Homo sapiens: one gene and its partners. The protein of the gene in region 1 interacts with the protein of each later gene in a biochemical or structural test. Each region holds a gene or a part of one and is shown in the gene's direction. Other genes may lie near its edges. The genes, in order: NR4A1, TUBB4A, BNIP3L, PML, KAT2B, MAPK14 and MAP3K1.

Region 1 (2,781 bases):
CCTTCCTGGAGCTCTTCATCCTCCGCCTGGCGTACAGGTGAGAGCCACTGACTGTCTGCCCAGCCCCTTTCCCTGATACACCTGCCTGTGAACCACCCTGATCGCTCTTCGTGCCCATCTGCCTGCCAGGTCTAAGCCAGGCGAGGGCAAGCTCATCTTCTGCTCAGGCCTGGTGCTACACCGGCTGCAGTGTGCCCGTGGCTTCGGGGACTGGATTGACAGTATCCTGGCCTTCTCAAGGTCCCTGCACAGCTTGCTTGTCGATGTCCCTGCCTTCGCCTGCCTCTCTGCCCTTGTCCTCATCACCGGTGAGTGACCAGCACCACACCAGGTCCAAGGGAATGGGCGTCAGGGGGTTGACTGGTTCTCAGGAGGGCACTGTCCCAGGGAGTTTGGTGGGCCGGGATCTAGCACTTTCTGGGCCCCTGCACTGCCCCGGGCTCATGCCAGCAGTAAAGTAGGGACCATAGGAATTGCAGATGGGCTCAGCTGCATCCAGCTCTAAAGCGCAAGACAGCCTTTGGTCCCAGACTGTCAGGATCCAGACTGCAGGTGTCATGTATGTGGCCTAGGGTATTGGCTTGTTTTTAAAACCTTCCTGTCAATTATGCTGCATATAGAAAAGTACACAAATGGTAAATTTTCATAAACCGCACTTACCCAACCAGCGCCTTGGTCAAGAAAGAGCACATAACTGCCCCCCAGAACCCATTATTGTGCCCCCTTCCAGTCATTTGCCCTCCCCAAGGGTAACCACTACTTTTTATTTAAATATTTTAAAAATAAGATGGGAATCTCACTATGTTGCCCGAGCTGGTCTCGAACTCCTGGGCTCAAATGATCCTCCTGTCTCAGCCTCCTAAAGTGCTGGGATTACAGGTGTGAGCCACCACGCCTAGCCCTTCACTGTGACTTCTGACAGTGCAGATCAGATTGGTTGTGCCTGTTTTGGACTTTATGTAAATGTAGTTCTGCAGGATGGAATCTGGTGTTGAATGCAGAGGTTTTCAGATTTCTCTGTTTTTTAAAGGAAAGAATCCACCCTCGTTCATTTTTTCACTTAAATTGCACAGGGGACCCAACGATATAGAACACAATCAGAGGTACTCTGGGCTGAGGGAGTGCTGAGTTCTGAGGCTGGGTTTCTCAGAACAGTCTAGATTTTAAAAACCCAATGATCTAGCCAGAAAACGTAGGTTAGGATTTTATTTCCCGTTTGTGACCCTGGGCAAGTCATTAGCCTCCTGGGCCTCGGGTTCTCACTTGGAGTATGAGGATAATGAGGGTTACTGCTTCTCAGACTTGTGACGATGCTTACTAATGGCCAACATGTGAATGCGCTTTTGTGAAGTGCCAGCAGAGCATGAGGGGTGGTCAGGGGCAGCAGTTTTAGGGGCCTGGGGGAGGCTGGGGCTTTGGGGGCCTGGTTCTCAGATGTACAGCTAATCCTGTACCCTTCCCGCAGACCGGCATGGGCTGCAGGAGCCGCGGCGGGTGGAGGAGCTGCAGAACCGCATCGCCAGCTGCCTGAAGGAGCACGTGGCAGCTGTGGCGGGCGAGCCCCAGCCAGCCAGCTGCCTGTCACGTCTGTTGGGCAAACTGCCCGAGCTGCGGACCCTGTGCACCCAGGGCCTGCAGCGCATCTTCTACCTCAAGCTGGAGGACTTGGTGCCCCCTCCACCCATCATTGACAAGATCTTCATGGACACGCTGCCCTTCTGACCCCTGCCTGGGAACACGTGTGCACATGCGCACTCTCATATGCCACCCCATGTGCCTTTAGTCCACGGACCCCCAGAGCACCCCCAAGCCTGGGCTTGAGCTGCAGAATGACTCCACCTTCTCACCTGCTCCAGGAGGTTTGCAGGGAGCTCAAGCCCTTGGGGAGGGGGATGCCTTCATGGGGGTGACCCCACGATTTGTCTTATCCCCCCCAGCCTGGCCCCGGCCTTTATGTTTTTTGTAAGATAAACCGTTTTTAACACATAGCGCCGTGCTGTAAATAAGCCCAGTGCTGCTGTAAATACAGGAAGAAAGAGCTTGAGGTGGGAGCGGGGCTGGGAGGAAGGGATGGGCCCCGCCTTCCTGGGCAGCCTTTCCAGCCTCCTGCTGGCTCTCTCTTCCTACCCTCCTTCCACATGTACATAAACTGTCACTCTAGGAAGAAGACAAATGACAGATTCTGACATTTATATTTGTGTATTTTCCTGGATTTATAGTATGTGACTTTTCTGATTAATATATTTAATATATTGAATAAAAAATAGACATGTAGTTGGAACTGAGATTCAGTCTGTCTCTGATGCCCCCTCCCCACTCCCCCACCAGACACACCCCATCATTACATAAGAGATGGGCTGCTCAAGATGAAACTTGGATGTTACCAGCCTGAGCTGTCAGGCCTCAGTGTACTCATTTGTAAAAGGCGGATAATAATGACACCTGCTTCACGAGGTTGTTATGCAAAGCACTTAGACTAATTTCTAACACGTGGGAAGCCTGCATTAGCTGTGCCTGGCTAGCTGTGCCTGGCTCATTGCTGGGGTCTGCAGTGGCTGACTAGCCCAGGGGTCACTGCAGGGCCCTAGCAATAGACTTAGCCGCAGATCTCAGGGTTGTCATGTTTCCTAAACTGGACATATATTCTCTGATTCTTGATTTCCACATCCATAAAACAAGAATAGACCCAGCCTCACAGAGCTTTTACGGTCAGAGGAGTGTGTGTGTAATGCTTAGCATGGGCTGGGTTTAAGTAAGCCCAAATTGGTAGTAGCTGTTACA
Region 2 (2,746 bases), on another chromosome or scaffold:
CCGCCTCCTGGGTTCACGCCATTCTCCTGCCTCAGCCTCCCGAGTAGCTAGGACTACAGGCGCCCGCCACCACTCCCGGCTAATTTTTTTTGTAATTTTAGTAGAGACGGGGTTTCACCGTGTTAGCCAGGATGGTCTCGATCTCCTGACCTCGTGATCCGCCCACCTCGGCCTCCCAAAGTGCTGGGATTACAGGTGTGAGCCACCGCACCCGGCTATTTGTTATTATTTTTGATAGTTACTAGTATTCAACTACTAGAGGCCCTCCAGGTGGTGGAGAGACAGAGTCAAGGGTTGGGGCTCCCCATAACTGCATGTGTGTCCCCTCCCCTTCCCTCTCTAGGCCAATCCGGAGCCGGCAACAACTGGGCAAAGGGGCACTACACGGAGGGCGCAGAGCTGGTGGACGCTGTCCTGGACGTAGTCCGGAAGGAGGCCGAGAGCTGCGACTGCCTTCAGGGCTTCCAGCTGACCCACTCGCTGGGGGGTGGCACGGGGTCCGGAATGGGCACGCTGCTCATCAGTAAGATCCGCGAGGAGTTCCCAGACCGCATCATGAACACCTTCAGCGTGGTGCCCTCGCCCAAAGTGTCAGACACGGTGGTGGAGCCCTACAACGCCACGCTGTCTGTGCACCAGCTGGTGGAGAATACGGATGAGACCTACTGCATCGACAACGAGGCACTCTACGACATCTGTTTCCGCACCCTCAAGCTGACCACCCCCACCTACGGGGACCTCAACCACCTGGTGTCGGCCACCATGAGCGGGGTCACCACCTGCCTGCGCTTCCCGGGCCAGCTGAACGCCGACCTGCGCAAGCTGGCCGTCAACATGGTTCCCTTTCCTCGCCTGCACTTCTTCATGCCCGGCTTCGCACCCCTGACCAGCCGGGGCAGCCAGCAGTACCGGGCCCTGACGGTGCCCGAGCTCACCCAGCAGATGTTCGATGCCAAGAACATGATGGCGGCGTGCGACCCGCGCCACGGCCGCTACCTGACCGTGGCCGCCGTGTTCCGGGGCCGCATGTCCATGAAGGAGGTGGACGAGCAGATGCTGAGCGTGCAGAGCAAGAACAGCAGCTACTTCGTGGAGTGGATCCCCAACAACGTGAAGACGGCCGTGTGCGACATCCCGCCCCGCGGCCTGAAGATGGCCGCGACCTTCATCGGCAACAGCACGGCCATCCAGGAGCTGTTCAAGCGCATCTCCGAGCAGTTCACGGCCATGTTCCGGCGCAAGGCCTTCTTGCACTGGTACACGGGCGAGGGCATGGACGAGATGGAGTTCACCGAGGCCGAGAGCAACATGAATGACCTGGTATCTGAGTACCAGCAGTACCAGGACGCCACGGCCGAGGAGGGCGAGTTCGAGGAGGAGGCGGAGGAGGAGGTGGCCTAGGCTGCTCCCATCGCTTCCCACCTGTCCCCTCGAGGCTTCTGACCTTTGATCCGCTAGGCCCCCCATCTCTGAACCCTAGAGCCCCGCTTTCCCTCCAAGGCTGACTCCCCGCTGACCCTAACAATACCTTTGGAGCTCGCTTTACCTCTGGCTACTTCATCTCCGACCCTGGCTCCCCTTTGAGCCCTAATTTATCTTTAACCCCCTTGAGCTCTTCCAACCTTGACATTCCCAGGAGGAGCCCCGCTTCACCCCTTCTGACTCTGGAAACCGCACCTTTAACTTTGCAGACCTTCCTTCACCCCTGACTTCTGCTTCACCTTTGACCTCTGCCCCCCATGAATCCCATTTTACCTCTAGACCTATAAGTTCTGGTTTATGTTTGACCCCTCCCTCTGAGCTGCACTTCACCGCTGACCTTGCCTCACCTTTAACCCCCCACCTGAGCCCCAGCTCCTACCTCTGACCCCAACTTCTCTTTGATCTCTGAATCCCCTCTGACTCCAACTTCTCTTTCACCCTCTATGAGTCCCATTTTACTTCTACACCTGCAAGTCCTGGTTTATATTGGACCCCTCCCTCCGAGCTGCAGTTCACCTTTGACCTTGCCTCACCTTTCACCCCCCACCCCCCACAGCGTCAGCTCCTACCTCTGACCCCAGCTTCTCTCTGATTCCCACAGGCCCCATGCATCCTCCCTGCCTCACTCCCCTCAGCCCCTGCCGACCTTAGCTTATCTGGGAGAGAAACAAGGCCTGGTGCCTGTGAGGAAGAGAGGTCACCCCTACCCTCCCTCCCCGCTTCCCTGCCTCACCCTCAATAAATAAATTAATTGTTGTCATGGATGTTTCTGCCGAATCCCTCTTTCCTCTCTTACAGCAAGTGCGGGCTTTTCTCTACAGGATGGAGGAGGGTACCGATGACATCTCATCTCTGGATGGGGGGCGTGCTGGGGAGGGATCAGACGGGCCAGGCTAGGCCACCCACTAACCCTGAGGTTTTGACTAAGCCATTTGCCTTCTCTCAGCCTCGGTCTTCCCACCTGTAAAATGGGATCGTATGTTTTCCCCCAGGATCCCCCCACAACTGTTATAGGAATGGGGTCCCAATCCAGACCCCAAGAGAGGGTTCTTGGATCTCAAGAAAGAATTCAGGGCAAGTCCATAAAGTAAAAGCACGTTTATTAAGAAAGTAAAGGGGTAGGGCACGGTGGCTCACACCTGTAATCCCAACATTGGGAGGCTGAGGCAGGTGGATCACCTGAGGCCAGGAGAGACCAGCCTGGTCAACATGGCGAAATCCCATCTCTACTAAAAATAAAAAAATTCGCAGGGCGTGGTGGTGG
Region 3 (3,500 bases), on another chromosome or scaffold:
AAACACAGAGCGCCTCTCCTCCTCCAAAGGAACGCAGTTCCTCACCAGCAACGGAACAAAGCTGGATGGAGAATGATTTTGACGAGCTGAGAGAAGAAGGCTTCAGACGATCAAATTAGAGTGAGCTACGGGAGGACATTCAAACCAAAGGCAAAGAAGTTGAAAACTGAAAAAAATTTAGAAGAATGTATAACTAGAATAACCAATACAGAGAAGTGCTTAAAGGAGCTGATGGAGCTGAAAACCAAGGCTCGAGAACTACGTGAAGAATGCAGAAGCCTCAGGAGCCGATGCGATCAACTGGAAGAAAGGGTATCAGCAATGGAAGATGAAATGAATGAAATGAAGCAAGAAGGGAAGTTTAGAGAAAAAAGAATAAAAAGAAATGAGCAAAGCCTCCAAGAAATATGGGACTATGTGAAAAGACCAAATCTACGTCTGATTGGTGTACCTGAAAGTGATGCGGAGAATGGAACCAAGTTGGAAAACACTCTGCAGGATATTATCCAGGAGAACTTCCCCAATCTAGCAAGGCAGGCCAACGTTCAGATTCAGGAAATACAGAGAACGCCACAAAGATACTCCTCGAGAAGAGCAACTCCAAGACACATAATTGTCAGATTCACCAAAGTTGAAATGAAGGAAAAAATGTTAAGGGCAGCCAGAGAGAAAGGTCGGGTTACCCTCAAAGGGAAGCCCATCAGACTAACAGCGGATCTCTTGGCAGAAACCCTACAAGCCAGAAGAGAGTGGGGGCCAATATTCAACATTCTTAAAGAAAAGAATTTTCAACCCAGAATTTCATATCCAGCCAAACTAAGCTTCATAAGTGAAGGAGAAATAAAATACTTTACAGACAAGCAAATGCTGACCGATTTTGTCACCACCAGGCCTGCCCTAAAAGAGCTCCTGAAGGAAGCGCTAAACATGGAAAGGAACAACCGGTACCAGCTGCTGCAAAATCATGCCAAAATGTAAAGACCATCGAGACTAGGAAGAAACTGCATCAACTAACGAGCAAAATCACCAGCTAACATCATAATGACAGGATCAAATTCACACATAACAATATTAACTTTAAATGTAAGTGGACTAAATTCTGCAATTAAAAGACACAGACTGGCAAATTGGATAAAGAGTCAAGACCCATCAGTGTGCTGTATTCAGGAAACCCATCTCACGTGCAGAGACACACATAGGCTCAAAATAAAAGGATGGAGGAAGATCTACCAAGCAAATGGAAAACAAAAAAAGGCAGGGGTTGCAATCCTAGTCTCTGATAAAACAGACTTTAAACCAACAAAGATCAAAAGAGACAAAGAAGGCCATTACATAATGGTAAAGGGATCAATTCAACAAGAGGAGCTAACTATCCTAAATATATATGCACCCAATACAGGAGCACCCAGATTCATAAAGCAAGTCCTGAGTGACCTACAAAGAGACTTAGACTCCCACACATTAATAATGGGAGACTTTAACACCCCACTGTCAATATTAGACAGATCAACAAGACAGAAAGTCAACAAGGATACCCAGGAATTGAACTCAGCTCTGCACCAAGCAGACCTAATAGACGTCTACAGAACTCTCCACCCCAAATCAACAGAATATACATTTTTTTCAGCACCACACCACACCTATTCCAAAATTGACCACATAGTTGGAAGTAAAGCTCTCCTCAGCAAATGTAAAAGAACAGAAATTATAACAAACTATCTCTCAGACCACAGTGCAATCAAACTAGAACTCAGGATTAAGAATCTCACTCAAAGCCGCTCAACTACATGGAAACTGAACAACCTGCTCCTGAATGACTACTGGGTACATAACGAAATGAAGGCAGAAATAAAGATGTTCTTTGAAACCAACGAGAACAAAGACACAACATACCAGAATCTCTGGGACGCATTCAAAGCAGTGTGTAGAGGGAAATTTATAGCACTAAATGCCCACAAGAGAAAGCAGGAAAGATCCAAAATTGACACCCTAGCATCACAATTAAAAGAACTAGAAAAGCAAGAGCAAACACATTCAAAAGCTAGCAGAAGGCAAGAAATAACTAAAATCAGAGCAGAACTGAAGGAAATAGAGACACAAAAAACCCTTCAAAAAATCAATGAATCCAGGAGCTGGTTTTTTGAAAGGATCAACAAAATTGATAGACCGCTAGCAAGACTAATAAAGAAAAAAAGAGAGAAGAATCAAATAGACAAAAAATGATACTACAAACACCTCTACGCAAATAAACTAGAAAATCTGGAAGAAATGGATACATTCCTCGACACATACACTCTCCCAAGACTAAACCAGGAAGAAGTTGAATCTCTGAATAGACCAATAACAGGAGCTGAAATTGTGGCAATAATCAATAGTTTACCAACCAAGAAGAGTCCAGGACCAGATGGATTCACAGCCGAATTCTACCAGAGGTACAAGGAGGAACTGGTACCATTCCTTCTGAAACTATTCCAATCAATAGAAAAAGAGGGAATCCTCTGTAACTCATTTTATGAGGCCAGCATCATTCTGATACCAAAGCCGGGCAGAGACACAACCAAAAAAGAGAATTTTAGACCAATATCCTTGATGAACATTGATGCAAAAATCCTCAATAAAATACTGGCAAACCGAATCCAGCAGCACATCAAAAAGCTTATCCACCATGATCAAGTGGGCTTCATCCCTGGGATGCAAGGCTGGTTCAATATACACAAATCAATAAATGTAATCCAGCATATAAACAGAGCCAAAGACAAAAACCACATGATTATCTCAATAGATGCAGAAAAAGCCTTTGACAAAATTCAACAACCCTTCATGCTAAAAACTCTCAATAAATTAGGTATTGATGGGACGTATTTCAAAATAATAAGAGCTATCTATGACAAACCCACAGCCAATATCATACTGAATGGGCAAAAACTGGAAGCATTCCCTTTGAAAACTGGCACAAGACAGGGATGCCCTCTCTCACCGCTCCTATTCAACATAGTGTTGGAAGTTCTGGCCAGGGCAATCAGGCAGGAGAAGGAAATAAAGGGTATTCAATTAGGAAAAGAGGAAGTCAAATTGTCCCTGTTTGCAGATGACATGATTGTTTATCTAGAAAACCCCATTTTCTCAGCCCAAAATCTCCTTAAGCTGATAAGCAACTTCAGCAAAGTCTCAGGATACAAAATCAATGTACAAAAATCACAAGCATTCCTATACACCAACAAGAGACAAACAGCCAAATCATGAGTGAACTCCCATTCACAATTGCTTCAAAGAGAATAAAATACCTAGGAATCCAACTTACAAGGGATGTGAAGGACCTCTTCAAGGAGAACTACAAACCACTGCTCAAGGAAATAAAAGAGGATACAAAGAAATGGAAGAACATTCCATGCTCATGGGTAGGAAGAATCAATATCGTGAAAATGGCCATACTGCCCAAGATAATTTACAGATTCAGTGCCATCCCCATCAAGCTACCAATGACTTTCTTCACAGAATTG
Region 4 (3,500 bases), on another chromosome or scaffold:
CACCCTTGCACTCTCCTGTATTCTGAGTCCCTGGCCAATAGCACAGCCTTCCATGCCCCGACCCCCACCCCAAGCCTCTCCACTAGGCCTCTGCCAGGATCTAAGCCCATGAGCACAGGGACTGGCTATCCCAAGACCTGGCAGATGTGGCTGCTCAATAAACACTTGTTGAACCATCACCCTTGCGAACCCTTATTCCACGACCATCGCGTTCTCCGATGGATCCAGCTCCTCCCTGCAGGCTGTTCTCTCTTCCCTATGCTGGAACTCAGTTCTCCTCTGGGGATACCATGTCCCCTCTTCCTCCCACACTCATGGGCATCAGAGGTGGGAGGTAGGGTCAAGGCCCCCTGCTTCCTGGACTGTTCCAGCCCCTTCCTGGCCGTCTGGTAAGATCCTCTGTCCCTCTCAGGGTGGGCCCCATGCTCCCCAGCTCATCCCAGACACCCACCTGCCCACCCTCATTGAGGGCAGACGTGAGCATTCACCTCCCAGATTTCTTCTCCCTGCTCAGGTCCTGCCTTCCTCCTGAGTGACTTCTATTTCCACCCACCTGCCCGCCACTCCTTAACCTCTCAGGGGTTGTCACCCCATTCCCCCAGACAGCTGCCTGCCCCGTGGCCGTGCCCTGCACCTTGCCATCACCGAGCACTGTCGGTCCCTCAGCCGGTCCTCTCAGACTCTGACCGCAGCCTCCTGTTCCTTGAGCTCTCAGTCCTACCTTCGCCTCCCTCCAGCCCCGCGCACTCCCCATTTCATCCCATCTTTCATCAGAATTGCAGCTCCCTGCCCAGCAGAAAATCCTGGAAGGACTCAGGAGCTTGTCGCCTCTGTGCTGCCACCTGGAGACCGAGATCTGCAGGAGAAAGGCCTGGGAAAACTATGAGTGGTTGCCTGTGACTGCTAAGGGCTCCTTGGTGCTCCGCCCAGCATGTCCTTTTGCTCTGCAGGGCAGCCCCCGCCTGCCTTTCTTCACTGGGCCCTTGTCCCAGCCTCACCCTCAGCTGATGGCGGCACCTTCTGCTCCAGGGAGAAAACAGGAGCTCTCCAATGGCATAGGGACAGTTGACATCTTGCTATTTACAGATCCCCATCGCACCCCTTCCCTGCCCTCGTTAGGGTGGAAGGGATGTCCACCTGCCTCCAGGACTCACCCTGTGTCCTGGCCCCAGCCCTTGACCCCCTGGGAGCCTCACTCCTCCTCCTCATCTCTCTTGCATCTTCTAATGTATCCACTGCCTTCTGAACTAAACACCCTGAATGAGGTCTTTCTCATCTCAGAAAACTCCACCCACTTCTCTCTCCAGCTGTCGGCTCCCCTTCCTCTGCTCTCCTTGTTTACACTTCAGCCCCCTCCTTGCCCCTTCTTCACCCCACCTCCTGCGCTTCCCCGCCAGTACCAGGGTGGCCTCTGTGCCTCTAGGTGCAGTGTCGCGTTTAGTCGTTATTATTCTTGACCGGCGCTGGGCCCGGTCTTTCCTGGAAAGATCGCCTGCTCGGATGCAGCTCTGGGCACTCCTCCCTCTCCTCTGCAGGCTCTGTTTTTTCTTGGTTGTGGTGCTCCTGCAGGTTTGCTGCTGGGCCCTTTCCTCTTTTCAGTCTGTGTATTCTCCCAGGTGCTCTCAGCCACGCCCCTGACTTCAGTTACTGCCCAGGGGTAGCTGATACCCAACACTCGCACCTGCCTGCCAGACCAGCATGGCCAGTGACCTTCCAACAGCTCCGCATGGATGCCCATAGGTACCTCAAACTCAGCACCTTCTCCTCCCGTCTCACTGGCTCGCCCCACTCTCTGCCCGGTTGCACAAGCCAAGACCCCATAGCCACCCAGGGCACCCCCCTTTTGATTATTCCTCACATCCAACCAGTTATTGAGTCTTGTCTTTCTAGGGTGTAAATTCCTCTGAAATCTGGGCACTTCTTTCCATCCCATAATCTTGGTAAAATTAAAGCTACCACTGACCCTGGGTAGAGGCAGAAGCCTGGGAAGGAAAGGTGGAGAACAGGTTTGGAGTGCCAACAGTGTCCCCAGATGTCATGGAGAATCAAGTAGAGGGACCCCAGCAATATTGGGGGTGGGGCGGGGAGTATGTAATGCTCAGCTATCAGCAAGGAGTCATTAGGGGCTATACAGTGAATTAAGGGAGGGGGTAAAAGCACATTTCAGGTGATGATGAATTAAATACCTAGGAGCTCACATTAGAGAGCAGGCCTAGAGACGTGGGGAGAGAGCCAGAGGACCGCTGCTTTTGTGTATGTAGCTTTAAGACACAGGTTTTAAAAATTGTTATAGGAGTCCCAAACTTTAGAAAATATATATTTTAAAACCCCAACAAATTAGGTCCCCCCTATGCATTTCTCACCCAACTTCTGGGCCCTTTCCAGACCCCTGGTGCCCCCAGAGTACACCCAGCACCACCACTGCAAATTCCTACTCCCCAGCTTGGAGGGGGTGGGGTGATATTCCCAAGGTGATCCCGGCTCCCACCTAACCCATCCTCCCCAGCTCTGCAGCTTATATCCAGCTTTGCAGTGAGGAAAGTTGCAGAATACTGGTCTGCTACATTACTACTTTCCAAGTGTATCAGGGCATTTAGGAACCCCTCCCTTGAGCTTCACCTGTGTCCTAGGGATTCAGTGAGAGACTGTTTGTGCAAGAAGGAGCGAGAGGCAGCAGGGCATAGTCATGGGGTGGAGCAGTGAGTCCCCCAGGCCTGGTTGTGGAGTACCTGGGGTGAGGACTTTGCTTAAAAACTGCCAGAGTGGGTCAGCAGTGCGCCTGCCCTGGGGCCCCTGCTTTAGGATCCAAAGTGGAAAAGATAGGTGTTTTCACCCACTCTTGTGACAGATTACTGGCTCCGGTGCCTTGGTGGCAGCAGCAACAGGAGGGGGCCAAGGTGAGGGGGCAGCCTGTGGCAGAAGTGGCAGTGGTGACGGCGGAGGAAGGGAGGCCTGTGGGGAATGGCTGATCCAGGGGAGGGGCCGTGGCACTGGTGAGTGTGCATCTGAGAAAATGAAACGGAGGTGCTGGCCAAGAGGCTGGAGCTAGGCAGAAGGGCAGCAGAGGCCACAGGCTGGCCGAGTTTATGGTCCAGTTCACTCATAACATGTGCAGTATTCCTGGGGTCTTTGAGGCTTTGCAAGAGCTGGGGTTTTGTGTCTGCAGAAAGATAGCAATGCATGTGTCTTGCCAAACTGATCCCAGCTGTAGCTGATGCTTAAGTGCTCAGAAAGTTCTTCAGGAGCTTGAGGGCTCTTGATAAGCATGAATGTCAGATGTTCTGTATCTTCCAGAGGCTGGATGCTGACTATCAGAGTTTGGCTTGTGTTTGGCTGATGAGCAAACCTGGAATGAATCAGTGATAAGGACAATTGTTCTCAAGCTGGCTGTACACTGGGGAGTTTTCCCAACTACAGATTCCTAGGTCCTACGCCCTGAGATTCTAATCGAATCAGTCTTGGGTGCAGCCTGGGCCTCAGTTTTTTCTTAAAGCTATGAA
Region 5 (3,229 bases), on another chromosome or scaffold:
CAGAAGCTCCAGGATATTATGAAGTTATAAGGTTCCCCATGGGTAATACCATTAACATTTTCTAAGTATAGATTTAAAACTCTGGATGGCGGTGTGGGGGACAAATGGTTGCTGAGGTTGATTTGTACTCCTCTGCTTAGGGTAGGAAGTGTATGACGGGTGGTGGGATTCCATGCACCGTGGCGGGTCAGTGATGGCAGAGAAGTGGGTGGCTGTGTTCATTAGAGACATTCTGCAGCTGTCGTTTAGAGCCCACATGAGCTTAACGACACTAGACGCAGAAAATCCACGGTAACTGCAGACAGCACTAGATTTGAAAGCTGGCACTTTAGATATAACTTTGCTTATATTCTAACTCTTTGGTGCAAATAGAAAAACATCAGCTTATCCTCTTGATATGCTTTGCGTCTGTCGTAAATAGGTATTCCTTTGAATAATTATTCAGGATAATAATGAAAGAAGTTAGATTAAAGTACTTGACTGCTGTACTTTCAGAGGGAGAAATTCTACTTACCACAATTCTTGATTTTCCATGCCCTTGATGGGTACTGTTAATGTCACTGTATATACTCTTTATTTTACGCTTTGTCTCATATCCAAAATCAAACAAAAAAGGATGTCTTCAGAAATGTAGAATTGTGCAGTTTGGTGCTGTGCCCACACCACTCTAAAATTAATGATTAATTGAATCATTTGAGGTCGCTCAAATTAAACTAATTTGGCATTGTGTGGGTGACAACCAGTTGAAATGTTTTCTTTTTATCAGCTATGTGGCCATATTTTTGGAGAGAGCCAGAGTCTTCTGTCTCTTTTCTACCTGTAATCTATTCCAGGTGCTAAGAACTGTGAAAGTCCAGCTTGGGTAATGTAGTGAGACCCTGTCTCTACAAAAAGTAAAAAATTAGCCAGGTGCAGTGGCACACGCCTGAGGCCCCAGCTACTTGGGAGGCTGAGGTTGGAGGATCACTTGAGCCTGGGAGTTTGAGGCTGTAGTGAGCTGTGATTGCACCACTGCACTTCAGCCTGGGCACTGGAGGGAGACCGTATCTCAAAAAAAAAAAAAAAAAAAAAAAAATTGTGGAAGTGTTAAAAATGTGAAAAGGAAGAGTGAAAGGGACGCATTAGCTCCTTGAAAACTGAGTTATTTACAGGTGTTTTCTATAGCATTTAAATGTTTCACATGAATATTTTATATATTTGTAGTAATGATTTCAGTAGCCTACACCCTTTAAAGTGAACACACATCTATATGCTTTTCTTTCTCTCTTCTCTCTGACTTACCACTATTTATTTCAGTACAAGAAAATAAAGGGTATGGTTGACTCAGTCTAGAATTCTGAATGGAAGGCTGATTTGGGAATCAATATTGTCCACTATGTGCAAAATATGTTAAAACTCTTTGTGTCCATTTCCAACCATAAATTAACTGATTTTTGCATCCTCTTCCTCTGGACCATCTCAGCTTCTTTTGGGAAACCCCCATGGGAAGCTGTGTGACTTTGGGGCCCTTTCAGCCCCTGTGCACATGCACTCTGATGACGTGCAGCGATAGGTCTAGCAGATCTCGTCGATCATAGCCTACTTGCAGCCTGCTTTCTGAAAGTGTTTTGCTTGGTCCCACCCGTGAAGGTTGTGAACTTCTCCAGTTGGATACCACCTGTATGCATAGCTGAGTCTCACAAGGGGGGAAACTGACCTAATTGAGCAAGGCCAGTGATGGGCTGAAATGTGTGCTGGACAAAGTTAAAGCTATAAATGGTGTTCTTCAGTAGGGCAGTATTTTTTTTCTTGGTATTGTTCAGATGCTGAGTAAAATATTTAGTCTTGTCCCCAAGATTATCTTGTATTTGAAGACAAGATTGACAAATCAGTAATTTTACATTTTCCCACGATTTCCTTATTTGATTTTTCTAATAACATTACTTTTCTTTCCCCATATTCTGAAAAACTGTTTCTCTCATATGGATGGGATCTAACCTGTTTTACTTAGGGAGTCACACACTGGACATCAGCTGTATAGTCTGGCCCAAGCATGACTTCTTGTTACCCATGGATGGCTAGGCAGGGTTTTGCTGCTTACCCAGAATTCCCAAGTTAAGGGGAAAGGACATGAAAACTGAATAATTTAATGGTGTCTCTATATTTGGTACCACCAATATTTAGTCACCTTTTTTAACCCACCTCATTTTGTCAATTGAAAAAACTCTACGAAGGCCAGAGGAAGAAGAATGCTATCTATAGCTTTAGAATAGAAAGGAAGTATTCAGAATTGGTTATAGTTATTCAGAAAAGTCCAGACACCGCCATAATTCTTGCTTTGTTTCTGCTGCATTTTAGGCTCTCTCCATCTTTTCTTACCCATCTCCTAAAAAAGTTCGAAAAGCTTTTGGACAAACTTCTTTGTGTCGTGTCATCCTTTTACTCCCCCTCCCCCTTTTTGGGGGGTACATGTTTCTTCCTTTTAAAACATTATACATATTATATTGGGCAGCATATCTTAAGTGGTAGACATTTAGGTGGAAAAGTGAAAGGAATGTAAACATCTACTTTTACTTAGGGCCAATTTCATTGTTTTTTTCTTCTTTAAATGAGAGAACATTTTGATCTGTTCAGTCACACTTGGATGGGACATTTAGTGTGAGATTTGATGAGTCTTTGTGTTTCTTAGCGCTTTTAGATTTTTATCTCTCTCCAAACTGTTTTAGAGAAGAAAGAAAAGTTGAAAGTTGAATTTACAGATGTGATGACATACACTCTAACCAAGATAGGCTTTATTCAAGAGATAGGCAGAAGCAGCTTTTTTCCATTTCTTCTTTGATGCTTTTGTGGTGGATTTAGGATATTGATGCAAATGAATTCCTTCCCATTTGGGGATATTGTACGTACATTTACTTACCTTATTAAATGATGATCCCAATGTATTTGGTTATAGGTTTCTTTCCCCCTGGAAATTTTATAACATACTTATAATTTGGGATATTGGTAGTCAGAAGTGGGGTTTTTTTTTTCCCATTTGACTTATTTTTCCACACATAGTTAATACAATTATAGCTTTTAACAATAAAGCCAGACTTCAAGACAACCAGGGAACCATAAATAGACAAATGTTAGCGTCTATTCTAATCTGCATAGAATTCCTTAAATTAGTCCTGACAGTGAGGATTGAAGAAACCCTACTTTAGTTTTATCAGTTTAGATGGAGTACTGTTTTCACCTGTAAAATACTACA
Region 6 (3,500 bases), on another chromosome or scaffold:
TCTTCTGAAGATAAGAACTTTCTTAGGGGTTCTAGATTGTTATGTAACTTTTCACTAATTTCTAGGTATCTGGTGACCCATCTCATGGGGGCAGATCTGAACAACATTGTGAAATGTCAGAAGCTTACAGATGACCATGTTCAGTTCCTTATCTACCAAATTCTCCGAGGTCTAAAGGTACAGATAATACAAGTAATAATTTTTTAAAATGAATTCTCCCTTTCTCCCCTCCTTTTAGGGCTTAAACAAACAAGTAAACAACTTTTCTAATGGAAAATTCAAACACATAAAATCACAGGTAAAGGTCATATAGTACAGTAAACTGCCATGTTCACTCAGTGACAACAGTTACCGACATATGGCCAATCATGTTTCTTTTGTATTTCCCAAGCCCTGGATTATTTTAAAGCAAGTCTAGACATTATATAATACCATCCATAGATACTTCAGTTTGCATATCTGAAAGATAAGGACTCTTCATTCTTACATCTAAACAATAATTTATTGATGTAATCTAATATCTGGTCAGCGTAATGTTGAGATTTTCAAAAAATCCTCAAGAAAGACTAATTTATTTGTTGGAGGGGCAGATAAACAGTGTTTTAAAATTAAACCCATCTTTGATATTTAGCTGCTTTGAGTCCTTATTGAGCTCCAGAGTGCCAACCAGAAAATAGATTAAAAGCTCAACTGAGTGGAGTCAATGGCTGTGGAAATTATAGTAATGGTAAATGTACACAATACTGATAGTTACTTATGCTGATTTCTAATCTTACTATTAACACTAGCAGTTCTTACTGATTCATGAAAATGTGCAGCAAATATGTTATATAATATGACAATAGAAGGTTGGAGGTAACTTTGACTTTTTTCTCTTTTGCAGTATATACATTCAGCTGACATAATTCACAGGGTATGTATTGTGACTTTGATTACATTATTTTGGGGAAGTGGGGTGAGAGTGGAAGAATGGCATTTAGCCAAGATCCTAATCTAAACTTTAGCCATTGAAATGTTGATTGATTGCAACTTTACTGTAGGTTTAAGCTGATTAAAGAAAGAAGATGTGTAGTTTTTTTCTATGTAAGGCTAACTTGGACTGGATATTGACTGTAGGATGGAGATTGTCTTTTGATAGCTGGATGAAGTCTTTTATGTCTGGATCCTCATTATTACCTGTAGGGGGAGAATTGATCATGCATCATAAAGTTGATCCTGTCTTCCCTGTATTTGCTTCCTAGGACCTAAAACCTAGTAATCTAGCTGTGAATGAAGACTGTGAGCTGAAGGTAAAATGAAGAGACAGTATTCATTGTTTGCTTTACTTTGAGATTATATGTTTGACTAAGCAGGCAGACTTTCTTAGGGAGTAGCTTTGTGAGCCATGACTATCTGAAATTCGTATTATTTTTATTATCAGACTTTGAAATTTAAACCATTTCTGAGTAAGCTAAGTGACATTGAAAGTGGCATCACTTGTTTTTATTTTAACATAAAGTTAAATTATAAATTTGATATATTAGTCATAATAAAGGAGGATAATAGTCAAATATCAAGTAAGTAGGCCCAAAGAGGTGATAACTAGATTAAATACATTTCTAAGAGGAGAAATGGCAGAAACCCACTCACTCAAAATAATTCAAATAAAAAATAAGTGAATTAATTGTTTCTAAATAGCAAGCAGCTCTAGAACTTTTGTTCCATTTCATTTTTTTAACTTGAAAAAATGTCTGTACATTAGAATGCACCATTTCATTTGGCAAAATTATATATCCACTTAACTCACATTTATGATAAAGACCATTTCTTTTTTTTTCCTTTTTTTTGGGATGCAGTCTCACTCTGTTGCCCAGTCTAGAGTGCAGTGGTGTGATCTTGGCTCACTGCAACCTCTGCCTCCCGGGTTCAAGCGATTCTCCTGCCTCAGCCTCCCGAGTAGCTGGGACTACAGGTGCACGCCATCACACCCGGCTAATTTTTGTATTTTTAGTAGAGATGGGATTTCACCATGTTGGCTAGGATGGTGTCGATCTCCTGACCTCGTGATCCACCTGCCTCGGCCTCTCAAAGTGCTGGGATTGCAGGTGTGAGCCATTGCTCCCAGCCAAGAACATTTGGATTACTTTAAAAAGTTTATGGCCAGGCGTGGTGGCTCATGCCTGTAATCCCAGCACTTTGGGAGGCCAAGGCGGGTGGATTATGAGGTCAGGAGATAGAGACCATCTTGGCCAACACGGTGAAACCTCATCTCCACTAAAAATACAAAAATTTAGTTGGGCATGGTGGCGGGCACCTGGAGTCCCAGCTACTTGAGAGGCTGAGGCAGGAGAATGGCGTGAACCTGGGAGGCAGAGCTTGCAGTGCGCCGAGATAGTGCCACTGCACCCCAGCCTGGGCAACAGAGCAAGACTCCGTCTCAAAAAAAAAAAAAAAAAAAAAAAAGTTTATTGTGTCCCTTCCTAGTCAATCCCTACCCCTCCACCCCTAACTCTGGCTCCAGGCAACTATGGATCTGCTTCTAACACTATAGATTAGGTTTATCTTTTCTGGAGTTTCATGTAAATGGAATCATATAGTGTGTATTTTTGTGTGTCTGGCCTTTGCTTGGTGTAATGATTCGGTATTGTTGTGTGTGTCAGTGGTTTCTTCCTTTTTATTGGTAATAGTATTTTGTTTTATGAACATAACAGAATTTTTAAATCTATCCACCTGCTGATGGACATTTGCTTGAGTTTGAGGCTGTGTAAAGCAACTGTGAATGTTTATGTGCAAACCTTTGTATGGACGTAAGTTCTCATTGCACTTGATTAAATACCTGGGAGTGACATTTTTGTTTTGCTTTTTGTAATTTCATTTTAAGTTCTTGCTGTATATTTACCATACATTCTAAGTATGGACCAGGAAATCTCTTTATGAAAGTGCTATTTTGTTCTCCTTTTTAATAAGGCAACAGAGGTTTGTTTGTTGTTGTTGTTTTGTTTTTTTTTCCCTGCCTGTTTCTAAGTCTTAGCAGTTTGTCTGTTCCTCTTCTGCCCTTTAGATTCTGGATTTTGGACTGGCTCGGCACACAGATGATGAAATGACAGGCTACGTGGCCACTAGGTGGTACAGGGCTCCTGAGATCATGCTGAACTGGATGCATTACAACCAGACAGGTATTACTCGCCTTGGTTATTTAGGGCCTTATTTAATTCCATGTTGGATGCATTTGGGATTCTCAGAAATAGAGATGGTGGGAGTGGGAAGAAATGTCTTTTCTTCCCTCAGTGATCCTTTTAAAGCCTGCAAGTAAAAATATTTCACTTCCTCAGATGGGGAAGTGGGGTTTTATACACAGCTTTTAAACCTTGTGATTTAGCAATTGGGTTTTTATTTATTTAGATTTTGAATATATTCTCTGAGTACTTATACCTAAAGACAATTAGTCCATAATTTTAACCCCTCAATGTTACTTGGAAGAATCTACCATTCTACTAATAAGAAACTTGCCCCTTTTTAAA
Region 7 (3,500 bases), on another chromosome or scaffold:
AGTTTGTCCCTCTTTTTCAGGGTGATAGCTGAAATCAGTGAAAGTGCCTGTAAGTGGCGCCCAAGGGTTTGGAATTTTTCCTTATATTACAGAATTTAGGGGCTTTTTCTTCCTATTTACTGTCTTTGAAGAAAAATTACAGTGTTACTCTCCATTGAACAGCCTATTGTGAGTTTGGTAGATATAATTACCCCATCCTATTTTTGTAACTTAAAAAACCAAACTATCAATTTGCTGGCCCCGTGAAAGAACAAGATATGCTGTACTTGTTAATGTTAGTTTTTGTTTAAAACTAAAGGTATTTCACAGGCTGCTTTTATATCCTCATATAGCCCTCAGATTTCACTTCCTTTTTAAAGCTATTAGGCTAAAAATATGATTTAGTGACCTTTTACTAAAGAGGAGGTATAAGAGCATTATTACCTAAAAATTACTCTTAAAATATTAAGTGGGTGACTTTATAAAAATAAAGGTAGTCACATAAGTTAGTCTTCCGTGAATTTGTAAGTTTTTAGTTAAGAATGGTGTCAGTTTCATTTTAAATCAGATAAGAAAATTAATGCATTCTTCAAAGATGAACCTTAATATAATTCTGGAAGAGAAATATAAGAGCTAGAATTGTTGCCAACTTTTATTTTCTTTTCATATCTGATTTTGGCAAGAGTGACTGGTTAACCAACATTCCTTAATATACGATTTCCAATGCACTAAAACTCCATTTTGTTAGATACGAAAAACAGGAAGTAGCCCTGTTCATTGATATTCATTTACAACTTCCATAGCACCTCGAGCATAATATGTTGCATATTTTAGAAATGGCCACTGACTTGTCAACTTGCAGATTTCAAAATGTGGGAAGAAAGGAGTGTTTTTTTGCTTTCAACAAGAGCAAAAAAAAAACCAGCTACAGCTTGCCTAGGCTGAGTCGGCTAATCAGTCCTTGACACTGGCTGTGTGCATCCCAAAGGAAGAAATGAGGGGGTGGCAAGGTAGTTAATGGGGAATGGATTACCATGAGGAAAAATATGGGGCATTCAGAAATGCTCTCAGGTAGAAAGCACCTCTTTTGCATTTTGTACTCCAGTCATCTTCTTGGGTTGAGGGCTGTCTGTTACACAGAAGGCGATGGGAAAATGTGTCATGGAAAAGTAGTAGTCTCTAGAGGCTGCTTAGGAACTGCGTGTATATTACACCTCTAATCTTGGAATTCTTTGCTTCTATCAAATATATCAAGTATAGACTTGGTTGTTTTCCTTAGTCCTTGCCTCTTTCTATATCCTAAGTTAAAAGCTAAAGCAACTTAAACATGTAAATGGTAGACTATTAATGTGAGGAAATGTGTAAGATTAGGAGTAACCCAAAGTTGTCTTTAAGAAATTATTTAAGAACATGTTTAATCATGAAAGAAATAATCAGGGCCGGAATTAGTAAATGGTTCATTGCAAAGCATGAGATTAGTCAGATACTCTTTTCAGTTTGCAAAAATATATTAGGATTTTATCTGTGGCTTAAAACATACTCATTGAGCATATAGATATGCCTAGATACCTTTTACATAATCAACTCTTTTGCCTTCTGTGTGTGTGTATGATATCTATTATATGTATTATATATATGTTTATATATAATCTCATTTGATCATCACTGCAGCCCCCTAAGATAGTGTAATTTCTGTTTTCTGTAGGTGCAAACTCATCTGAGATGGTAAAACCTCATGATTACACAACTAGAAGACAGCTAGGATTCAATCCCAAGTCAGACTGACTCCACAGTCCATTTCTTTCCACTACTCTGCTTCTTCCATTTTCTTTTTTCAAATTAATAATCAAATTAATTGATTATTTTTAAGGAGAAATTTGTTTTGCAGGCATTCTAATAGACCATGAGCTAGGTCTCTACCCTGTGCTAAGTTTGCCTGTTAATGTATATAATAGGTATGTTTCTGTAACCTGGCCTTGTATATGTAATACAAGTAAACTGTATTTGGATCACCCTATCATGTCAGCCAAAGAGGGTTAGTCATTAGTGTTGAATGTTTCTTAGATTTATTGATTTGTGCTGTATTAAATCATAAGTGAAAGGAGATAAGCTGAAATTAATATGGTTCATTCATGGTAATCACACAGGAAGAGAAACTTTTACTATTGCTAGACCCTACCCCTTTGTTATTGTTTTAGATTTCATCCATTCAACATTTATGAACTTCTGCAAGGTGGTGGTCTTGAGTGGTGGAGAAAAAGATCATGAGTGCACAAGCTGTTTCTGTCGGTAGGTTGTAGTATGAACATGTTTCACAATACCGTGTTAAGTGCTATAAGAGAGATGGGGATACAGAGGGGATACAACATATTAGTTTCAAACTATTTCTGCCTATTTTCTGATAAGAATATATACAACACTGCATGTTCAGGCATGTTTTTTTTTCTTCCAAGGGAAAATTAAAAAGGAGATACGGGGAGCAAGAAATTCAACATCTGCTACTGCTAGTTCTGAAATTCTGTCTTTATTATTAGTAACAGCAACTCTACTAGTTACGAAAACAACATGGAGAAATATAAAATATTCTTTAGGGCATAAGATGATCAAGAAGATAGCCTTGTCTTTATTTACTCTATGGCATGTCATTGGTGATTGAGTTATGTTTGGTATGGAAGGGAGTTCTGTATTGTTAGTGATTGAGTCCTTTGGAATACCAGGCTGGTTTGATGCAGATGTTAATTTGATCGAGATGTGGAGATGTTGTAGCATACTAAGGGGAATTGTTAAAACTCACCAAGTGTATAATTCTGCAAGTACACATCTGTCACCTGGGAATTACTAAGCCACCAGACCTCTTGAAGCCTGGAGAAAGTGCTTGGAGCCACATGGGACAGCCTACACAGTACTGTAGTTAGTACGTTAACTAAGTTCATCACTTGTAAGCATAATGATGGATAGACATGGAGTGAGAACAGGGTCAGTACTGGGGTGTAGGTGGAAGCTTTGCTCTTGACAGATGTTATCATTACTTTTCTTTTTTTATTTTTAAATTAGAAATGGGTTCTCACTATGTTGCCCAGGCTGGAATCGAACTCCTGGGCTCAGGTGATCTTTCCACATAGCTGGAACTATGGGTGCAAGCCACTGTGTCTGGCTTTACTTTTCTTCATTGCCTAAACAATAATTTAAGTTATATGTTAACACATAATCTTCAAACTGGTCTTATGGTATTCTGAATACTAAACATCAGTTGTTAACAGACCAGGAACTTTATCTGATTCTTTGCACCATCTCCCAGCATCTAGACTAGTGTCTGGCACCCATGAATATTAGGTACCCAGAAATGTTAACATGAATTAATTTTCCAAAAGTGGTTAAATTAGTATATCTGAAGATTAACTTACTGTAGTGAGATTTTAATCATGATCTAGCTTAAGACGAGTTTTGAAGGCAAGAACTGTCTTTTTTTAGGAGTTTTTGTATATCGTTTGGTATTTATTTATTTATTTTTGAGACGGAGT

Evidence for each region.
Region 2: the proteins of NR4A1 (region 1) and TUBB4A form a complex in vitro, tested with the Homo sapiens proteins (one study listed by BioGRID).
Region 3: the proteins of NR4A1 (region 1) and BNIP3L form a complex in vitro, tested with the Homo sapiens proteins (one study listed by IntAct).
Region 4: the proteins of NR4A1 (region 1) and PML form a complex in vitro, tested with the Homo sapiens proteins (one study listed by BioGRID).
Region 5: the proteins of NR4A1 (region 1) and KAT2B form a complex in vitro, tested with the Homo sapiens proteins (one study listed by BioGRID).
Region 6: the proteins of NR4A1 (region 1) and MAPK14 form a complex in vitro, tested with the Homo sapiens proteins (one study listed by IntAct).
Region 7: of the proteins of NR4A1 (region 1) and MAP3K1, one has a biochemical effect on the other in vitro, tested with the Homo sapiens proteins (one study listed by BioGRID).

Annotation. Positions count from the first base shown.
Region 1 is NC_000012.12:52,057,223-52,060,003, forward strand, and holds the end of NR4A1 (nuclear receptor subfamily 4immunitygroup A member 1), read left to right. Parts: coding exon 1-37; intron 38-129; coding exon 130-308; intron 309-1,465; coding exon 1,466-1,722; 3' UTR 1,723-2,281; downstream 2,282-2,781. UniProt on the Homo sapiens protein: Orphan nuclear receptor. Binds the NGFI-B response element (NBRE) 5'-AAAGGTCA-3'. Binds 9-cis-retinoic acid outside of its ligand-binding (NR LBD) domain.
Region 2 is NC_000019.10:6,493,819-6,496,564, reverse strand, and holds the end of TUBB4A (tubulin beta-4A chain), read left to right. Parts: intron 1-343; coding exon 344-1,401; 3' UTR 1,402-2,246; downstream 2,247-2,746. UniProt on the Homo sapiens protein: Tubulin is the major constituent of microtubules, a cylinder consisting of laterally associated linear protofilaments composed of alpha- and beta-tubulin heterodimers.
Region 3 is NC_000008.11:26,396,554-26,400,053, forward strand, and holds part of BNIP3L (BCL2/adenovirus E1B 19 kDa protein-interacting protein 3-like), read left to right. Parts: intron 1-3,500.
Region 4 is NC_000015.10:74,036,216-74,039,715, forward strand, and holds part of PML (protein PML), read left to right. Parts: exon of another isoform or gene 1-179; intron 180-3,500.
Region 5 is NC_000003.12:20,148,446-20,151,674, forward strand, and holds part of KAT2B (histone acetyltransferase KAT2B), read left to right. Parts: coding exon 1-42; intron 43-3,229. UniProt on the Homo sapiens protein: Functions as a histone acetyltransferase (HAT) to promote transcriptional activation. Has significant histone acetyltransferase activity with core histones (H3 and H4), and also with nucleosome core particles.
Region 6 is NC_000006.12:36,072,808-36,076,307, forward strand, and holds part of MAPK14 (mitogen-activated protein kinase 14), read left to right. Parts: intron 1-65; coding exon 66-177; intron 178-883; coding exon 884-913; intron 914-1,241; coding exon 1,242-1,289; intron 1,290-3,040; coding exon 3,041-3,155; intron 3,156-3,500. UniProt on the Homo sapiens protein: Serine/threonine kinase which acts as an essential component of the MAP kinase signal transduction pathway.
Region 7 is NC_000005.10:56,818,549-56,822,048, forward strand, and holds part of MAP3K1 (mitogen-activated protein kinase kinase kinase 1), read left to right. Parts: intron 1-1,684; exon of another isoform or gene 1,685-2,197; coding exon of another isoform or gene 2,198-2,268; intron 2,269-3,500. UniProt on the Homo sapiens protein: Component of a protein kinase signal transduction cascade. Activates the ERK and JNK kinase pathways by phosphorylation of MAP2K1 and MAP2K4. May phosphorylate the MAPK8/JNK1 kinase.